Linked DNA regions of Homo sapiens. The protein of the gene in region 1 purifies or fractionates together with the protein of each later gene. This does not show direct contact. Each region holds a gene or a part of one and is shown on either strand. Other genes may lie near its edges.

Region 1 (3,820 bases):
TATCTGGCAAGACACATATTCAGAAAACATTTTAGATTTGTTAGGCACTTTATTTCTGTGCTTTATAGAGATAGAAAAGCAGGGTAGATCAAGAGTACAAAAACAGAATCCAAGACTTGCCCAGGTTAAGTTTTATCTGGATAGTTGGCAGAGCCGGGTACGGTGACTCATGCTTATAGTCTTAGAGCTTTGGGAGCTTGAAGTGGGAGGATCACTTAAGGTTAGGTCTGGGCAACATAGTGGGACCATGTCTATAATTTTTTTTAAAGACTGTAAGAATACATATTATTGGTTGTTCCTTGCTTGAATTTCCCCACTTTTGATTCTCCAAAGTGAATGTGTTCTTCTTTCACTCATATTGTCATCCCTTAGAGTTAGCATATTTTTTTTCTTTTTCTTTCTTTTTTTTTTTTTGAGACGGAGTCTCGCTCTGTCACCCAGGCTAGGGTTCAAGCGATTCTCCTGCCTCAGCCTCCTGAGTAGCTGGAACTACAGGCACGTGCCACCACACCTGGCTAATTTTGTATTTTTAGTAGAGACGGGGTTTCACCATGTTGGCCAGGCTGGTCTTGAACTGCCGACCTCAGGTGATCTGCCCACCTTGACCTCCCAAAGTGCTGGGATTACAGACTTTTCTTTCTTTCTTTCTTTTTTTTTTTTTTTTTTGAGAAAGATCTTACTCTTGTCTCCCAGGCTGGAGTGCAGTAGTCCAATCACAACTCACTGCAGCCTTGACCTCCTGGGCTTAAGCAATCTTCCCAGTATCTGGGAGTACAGGCATGCACCACCACACCTGGCTAAGTTTTTGATTTTTTTGTAGAGATGAAGTCCCACTATGTTGCCCAGGCTGGTCTCCTGGACTCAGTGATCCTCCCGCCCTAGCTGCCTAAAGTGTTGGGATTACAGGAATAAGCCACCACGCCCATCCTAGAGTCAGCATCTTAAAGTAGCCACAGGGTAGTATGCTGTTAATTAGACGACAGAGAAGTACTGATATTTATTAAACAGCTATCTTTTGAAATGTCATGTTTTCCTTCTCTGTCAGTGTTATGAAGTAGTTCTCATCTATTTCATGGACATTTCCGTTAAATCAGTTTTTGATTTATGACAGATTATATCATGAATGTTAAGAAGCAGAAAACATTTCTATACTGGATAGCATGTAAAAGAAGCCAAGTTATGAAGTTGGATCAGATTTTCAGTTCCTGTCTGCTTAACTGGGAACTAACTTTGACTTTCAAAGAAGATATTAGGAAAGATCAGTAATTAGTAGTCATTAGATTACATAATTTACATCATCCCAGGAAAGGAGCTGAGTTGGACAGGGGCACCATCATGTGACCTCAGGTTACATTGCAGATCATACTGGTCATACTCATCCATTCAGTAGACATCCGTGGATACATACCACAAACAAGACAGAGTAGTGCATACGTAAATAATGTACCCTGCTACCTTCACTGATGCAGCTTCCAAGGAGGTGAGCAGTCCTCCCACTGGGAAGGTATGAACAATACCAGGCAGTATACCGAGAGAATACCGGAGAGAGAGAGGTTGCTTCCAACAAGGATGTTTGGGAAGTCCTTAAAGAATTGCCTGAACTTCATAAAAAGGACAGTATGTTGGTTGGTCAAGAAGAATGGAAGGACATTTTAGGGGAAGAATAAATCACCATCAAAGGCACAGAGATGAAGGGTTTTCTGAGACAGATTTTTATGTTATTTTTTTGAGAGAGGATCTTGCTTTGTTGCCTAGGATGGAGTGCAGTGGCACAGTCGTGGCTCACTGCAGCCTCAAACTCCTGTGCTCAAGTGATCCTCCCACCTCAGACTCCCAAGTAGCTGGGACCACAAGCGTGTGCCACCATGCCCAGCTACTTCTAAAAATATTTTCTAGAGATGGGGCCTCGCTCTGTTGCTCAAGCTAGTCTTGAACTCCTGGGCTCAAGTGATCCTCTGGCATCGGCCTCCCAAAGTGTTGAGATTATAGGCGTGAGCCACTGTGCCCAGCCACAAATTGTTATTTTATGTATTATTTTTGAGACAGGGTCTTGCTGTGTCTCATAGGCTGGAATGTGGTGGCCCGATCATAGCTCACTGCAGCCTTAACCTTCCTGGCTCAAGCAGTCCTCCCACCTCAGCTGCCCAAGGAGCTGGGGATGTAGGCACACACCACCATACCTGGCCAATGTTTTTTTGTAGGGACAGGGGTCTCACTATGTTGCCCAGGCTGGTCTCGAACTGCTGAGCTCAAGTGATCCCCCTGCCTTGGCCTCCTGAAGTGCTGGGATTACAGGTGTGAACCACCACGCCTGGCCCACAAATTCTTATTCTTAATATTAAGATTGTTAGTGTGCTAATGTTCTATCCATTTTTCTGTGCTTGGATCAACTTGAAGCACTGGGTATTTATTACAGACCTATCCTCTGCTTGACAACTTCTGCTGGAATATATGTACTTGTCACATATTAGGATGGTTTGGGGTCAGTATAACAGTTGTTGCACTGAGTTAAATATAGCAAGAGATTTGGGGATCTAGAGCCTTCTTCAAAAGTATAAAATAATGGTTTACTAAGGTGACATCTTGTGTTCCTTCATGGCTAGAGGTACATGGGGCACTCACCCCTTGAAGGCAGGGATCTCTCTGTTTTCATATTTTTATTACTTATATCTGTAGAGTGACTAATACATGGTAGCATGCGTAAAAATTTGCTGAATCGTGGTTATCTTAACTTTTGATTTGTGAATCAGTGTGAGGGTTCATTTTAGAGAGAAAAAAATACTGTTAATGTATCACTTTCTTTTTCTTTTTTTTTTTTTTGGTTTAGGCGTTTCTCTTTCAGGATTCCGGGTAGAGGTTGTAGATGGAGTGAAGCTAAATTTGCTAGATGATGTTAGTAGTTGGAAACCTGGAGACCAGATTGTGGTCGCAAGCACAGACTATTCCATGTACCAAGCAGAGGAGTTCACTCTTCTTCCCTGTTCTGAATGCAGCCATTTTCAGGTCAAAGTCAAAGGTATTAAACTGCTTAGAGTACTTCTTGGGAAACACACTATTTTCTTGGGATTTGATTCCTGAAATCCTTTTTCCTCTCAGTCACTACCATCACTACCACCACCACCATCACAATCATCAGTATTGAAAGTCATAGCAGTGGAGTGCATCAAACACTAGATTCCAGGGAATATTAGATAAAAATAGCTATTGAGCAATATTCTTGCTGCTAATGATACATATTGCTTCAGTTTCTTTGTATAAAAAAAAGATGTCAACTAGAGAAATTGATTTTCCAAGGTCTTTTCTATTATTTTAAGTTCTGGGTTACATGTGCAGGATGTGTAGGTTCATTACATAGGTAAACGTGTGCCATGGTGGTTTGCTGCACCTACCAACCCTTCACCTAAGTATTAATCCAAGCATGCATTAGCTATTTTTCCTGATGCTTTCCCTCCCGCTGCCTCCCCTCCATTTTCTTTTGTATTAATTTTCTACTATCAGATAATAGTAAACCCAATGATGAATTAGATCCATTTATTAATAGAAGTATTTCTTAATTAAAAGAAATCCTATGGTTTTCGAGTGCCTATTTGATTACCAAAAACAAAAACAAAAACAAAAACTCATTGATATTTAAAATGGAATCAGATAGGTATTTTCTTAAGACTACATTTCCTTGCTGGGAGCAGTGGCTCCCGCCTATAATCCCAGCACTTTGGGAGGCTGAGGCAGGTGGATCTCTTGTGGTTAGGCATTTGAGACCGGCCCGGCCCATACGGTGAAACCCCATCTCTACTAAATATACAAAAAACATTAGCCAGGC
Region 2 (3,820 bases), on another chromosome or scaffold:
TGATTTTTACCCATGAAATTGACAGAGACTAAAGTGATTGGTATCTATTGAGTGAGAGTGTGGGAAGATTGGTGGTTCCCTCTCAGCAAGCGGTCCAGGGAACACCTTTCTGGAGAGCACTGGGTGGTAAAACCAAAAGCCACATAGTCTCAGTCCATCAGGTTCACATTCAGAGACTTACCCTAAGAAGATTAAGGTACATACAGAATGATTTATGTTGAAAGAAGTTCATCTTAACATGATTTAGAATAGTAAAAACTGAAAAGTCTAAATGTACAAGACTAGGAAACTGGATAGGTAAGTCCTGATAATTCATAGACTGGATATTAAATAGTGTTAGAAGTATATTTAATAAGAAAAATGTTCAGAGTTTATAAAGTGAAAACCATAGGCCACAGGCTTATTGTGTGAACCCAGTGAATGCTTTGTACTTATGTTACGTGTCCACTTTTTTAAAAGTCTGAAAGTATAAACACCAATGTGCTGTCTGTTATTATCTGTGATCAGTGAGCAAAATTACAGGAGGTTTTAATTTTCTTCTGTGTACTTGGTGTTTTCACACATTTTCTAAAGTAAACACGAATTACTTTTATGTTTAGGAAAATGTGTTTAAAATGTATGTATTGAGACAAGGTTGATTCATTGAACTGGAGTGTGTGATCTGAGGTTCTGCCCCCTGCAGTGATGTCTTCCAGGCAAGCTTATTCTTATATAAAGTGAACGGCCAGGCATGGTGGCTCATGCCTGTAGTCCTAGCACTTTGGGAGGATGAGGCAGGTGGATTGCCTGAGCTGAGGATTTCGAGGCCAACCTGGGCAACATGGTGAAACCCCATCTCTACTAAAAATACAAAAAATTAGCTGGGTGTAGTGGTGCACACCTGTTGTCCCAGCTACTTGGGAGGCTGAGGCATCAGAATCACTTGAACCTGGGAGGCGGCAGAGGTTGCCCTGAGCCGAGATCATGCCATTGCCCTCCAGCCTGGGCAACAGAGCAAGACTCTGTCTCAAAAAAAAAAAAAAAAAAAAAATGGAGGGGTTGGGGGAGGCTCCAAGGACCTGTGTGGGTCCAAGCTGGGCTCTGCTGCCTCGTGGAGGTTTGTGCCATGCCATCAGCTCTTTCCACAGGCCCCTGGCTGTGCCTGCCTGGGGCGCTGGGCCCCTGGCTCTGTCCTCACACTGGTTTCTCTTCATGGGGTTGATGATCACCTTCAGGAAGCAAAGCTGATGAAGGACAAGGGCTCCTCACCAAATAGACACTAGTGGTGCCTGTTTCTGACTTCTTGCTTTGATGTTCTCTTTTAGGGTCCAGATAATTTTTTTTTTTAGAAAAGAAATGTAGAGTGAAGGTGACAGCCTTTGATTATAGTAGTAAAGATGATCCAAATAGTTTGTATAATAAATACTTGGACACATGAATCTGTATTTGAAATTTGAAACCATCCTAATAATATAGCCAAAAAAAAAAAAAAAAAGCTCCAGCGTCCTCTCCTCACGCTTTCCTTGGCTTTGAGCAGGGAGAAGAGCCTGCTGAGTGCAGTGAGGCCGGTCTCCTGCAGGAGGGAGTACAGCCAGAGGAGTTTGTGGCCATCGCGGACTACGCTGCCACCGATGAGACCCAGGTAGCCACACGTGGTGGTTAATGCTTTATGGCTTTCAGCATGTTCAGTGTCAAAAGGAGATAAATTTTGCAGACGTCACACCAAAGTTAAATGAAGAGGTATTCAGATGCGTAGGGCCACACAAGACCTGTGTGTGAAGCTCACAGCCCAGCCAGTTCTGCCTCAAGCATGATGTAAAGATACGAGGCATGGAGTGGGGACCCTCAGCCAGGGGCAGAAGCACCTGTTCTGGTTTCTACTTGGAATGTAGAACCCACCCAGTTAATGAAAAGTAAGGCTACCAAATATATCAAGCTATATCTGCTTGGACATAGCTTTGTTTACTTTGTGACAGGAATTTCTTAGAGTCAGCCTCCAGTAACTCAGTTGGCATAGTTGAGTTACAATGAAGAGGCTGTTGAGAAATTCTCTCCTAAGCCATTTGAAAATGTTTACTCCTTCTTTTAAAAAATATCTGTTAAGCTGTGCCCTCCTTTCAGGTAGATGTTCCAGAGGCATCGCTAAGTCATGGTGTCACTTGCAAACATTCTCAGTTGCTGTCATTACCCACTGACTCCTGTTTGAAATCTCTGTGATTTTGTCACCATTGATGGGATTTATCACTGAGCCACATTTGAAATACCAATGACTGGTTTTCTTATTGAATTTTAACTTTTTTTTTTCCAGCTCAGTTTTTTGAGAGGAGAAAAAATTCTTATCCTGAGACAAACCACTGCAGATTGGTGGTGGGGTGAGCGTGCGGGCTGCTGTGGGTACATTCCGGCAAACCATGTGGGGAAGCACGTGGATGAGTACGACCCCGAGGACACGTGGCAGGATGAAGAGTACTTCGGCAGCTATGGAACTCTGGTATTGCTTTCTAAATTCCCTGTTCAGCTGGCCAGGCGGTGGGTTCTCTCTAGCTTTAGTTCTACTGCAACGTTCAGAGCAGGCCCATAGTCTTACAGGCCAGAGCTCCTCTGTTGTAGCCACTCAGCTCTGACATGGTTGTGTGGAAGCCACTGTGGATGACACACAAAGTGTGCACTGTTGTGTTCCAATAAAACTTTATTTATGGATCTTGAAATTTGAATTTATACTGTACAGTTTTCATGTGTCACAAAGTATTTTCTTTTGATTTAAAAAAATCATTTAAAAATGTAAAACCCACTGTTAGTTTGGAGGCCATCCAAAAACAGGTGGTGGGCTAGATTTGGCCCATGGCTTAGTTTGCCGACCCCTGGCTTAGAGATATGATTTGAGCAATGAGATTATGTGCGTGCTCCCTCAGTATTTAAAAAAAAAGCAGTAAATTTTACTTTAAAAATGAAATTAGGCTGAGTGTGGTGGCTGACACCTGTAATCCCTACACTTTGGGAGGCCAAGGCAAGAGGACACTTGGCTTGAGACCAAGTGTTCAAGACCAGCCTGACAACATAGTGAGAAAAAATAAAAAATATAATTCGTCTCTACAAAAAAAAAATTAAAAAAAAATATAATTAGCTGGGCATGGTGGTGCACGCCTGTAGTCCCAGCTACTCGAGAGGCTGAAGTGGGAGGATTGCTCAAGCCTTGGAGGCCAAGGCTGCAGTGAGCCATGATGGCGCTGTTGCACTTCAGCCTGGGCTACAGAGCGAGAGCCTGTCTCAAAAAAAAAAAAAATAGAAAAAATTCTATAAATCTATGAATAATACTACTTAGGTCAGGTGTGGTGGCTCATGCCTGTAATCACAGGACTTTGGGAAGCTGAGGTCAGAGCATCACTTGAAGCCAGGAGTTCAAGTCTGTGGTGAGCTATGATTGCGCTACTGCACTCCAGCCTGGGTGATTGAACCAGACTCTGTCCCTAAAAAAATAATAAAAGCCCAGCTTCTAAATAGCTTACCGAAATTTTTTCCCCACCATGGAGAAATGCCTATAACCCGATGGTCCAGGCAACAATCTCTGGTTACATTTTAAAACTAGATGAAAACAGTTACTTGCAGGATGAATGTTATAAAAATGATGTTAGTTGAAAGAAGGAATAGGGCAAAGAATCTATAACGTTTGACTCAATTATATAAAGTTAAGAGGCCATATTAGAAGGTTTTTTGTTTGTTTTTGTTTTTTTTTTTTTGAGACGTAGTCTTGCTCTGTCACCCAGACTGGAGTGTGGTGGCAGGATCCTAGTTCACTGCAGCCTCTGCCTCCCGGGTTCAAGCAATTCTCCTGCCACAGCCT

What was found.
Region 2: the proteins of CEMIP2 (region 1) and PRMT2 purify together in Homo sapiens (co-immunoprecipitation; one large-scale study listed by IntAct). This does not show direct contact.

The regions. Positions count from the first base shown.
Region 1 is NC_000009.12:71,734,002-71,737,821, reverse strand, and holds part of CEMIP2 (cell surface hyaluronidase CEMIP2), read left to right. Parts: intron 1-2,827; coding exon 2,828-3,016; intron 3,017-3,820. UniProt on the Homo sapiens protein: Cell surface hyaluronidase that mediates the initial cleavage of extracellular high-molecular-weight hyaluronan into intermediate-size hyaluronan of approximately 10-5 kDa fragments.
Region 2 is NC_000021.9:46,642,019-46,645,838, forward strand, and holds part of PRMT2 (protein arginine N-methyltransferase 2), read left to right. Parts: intron 1-1,516; coding exon 1,517-1,621; intron 1,622-2,287; coding exon 2,288-2,470; intron 2,471-3,820. UniProt on the Homo sapiens protein: Arginine methyltransferase that methylates the guanidino nitrogens of arginyl residues in proteins such as STAT3, FBL, histone H4. Acts as a coactivator (with NCOA2) of the androgen receptor (AR)-mediated transactivation.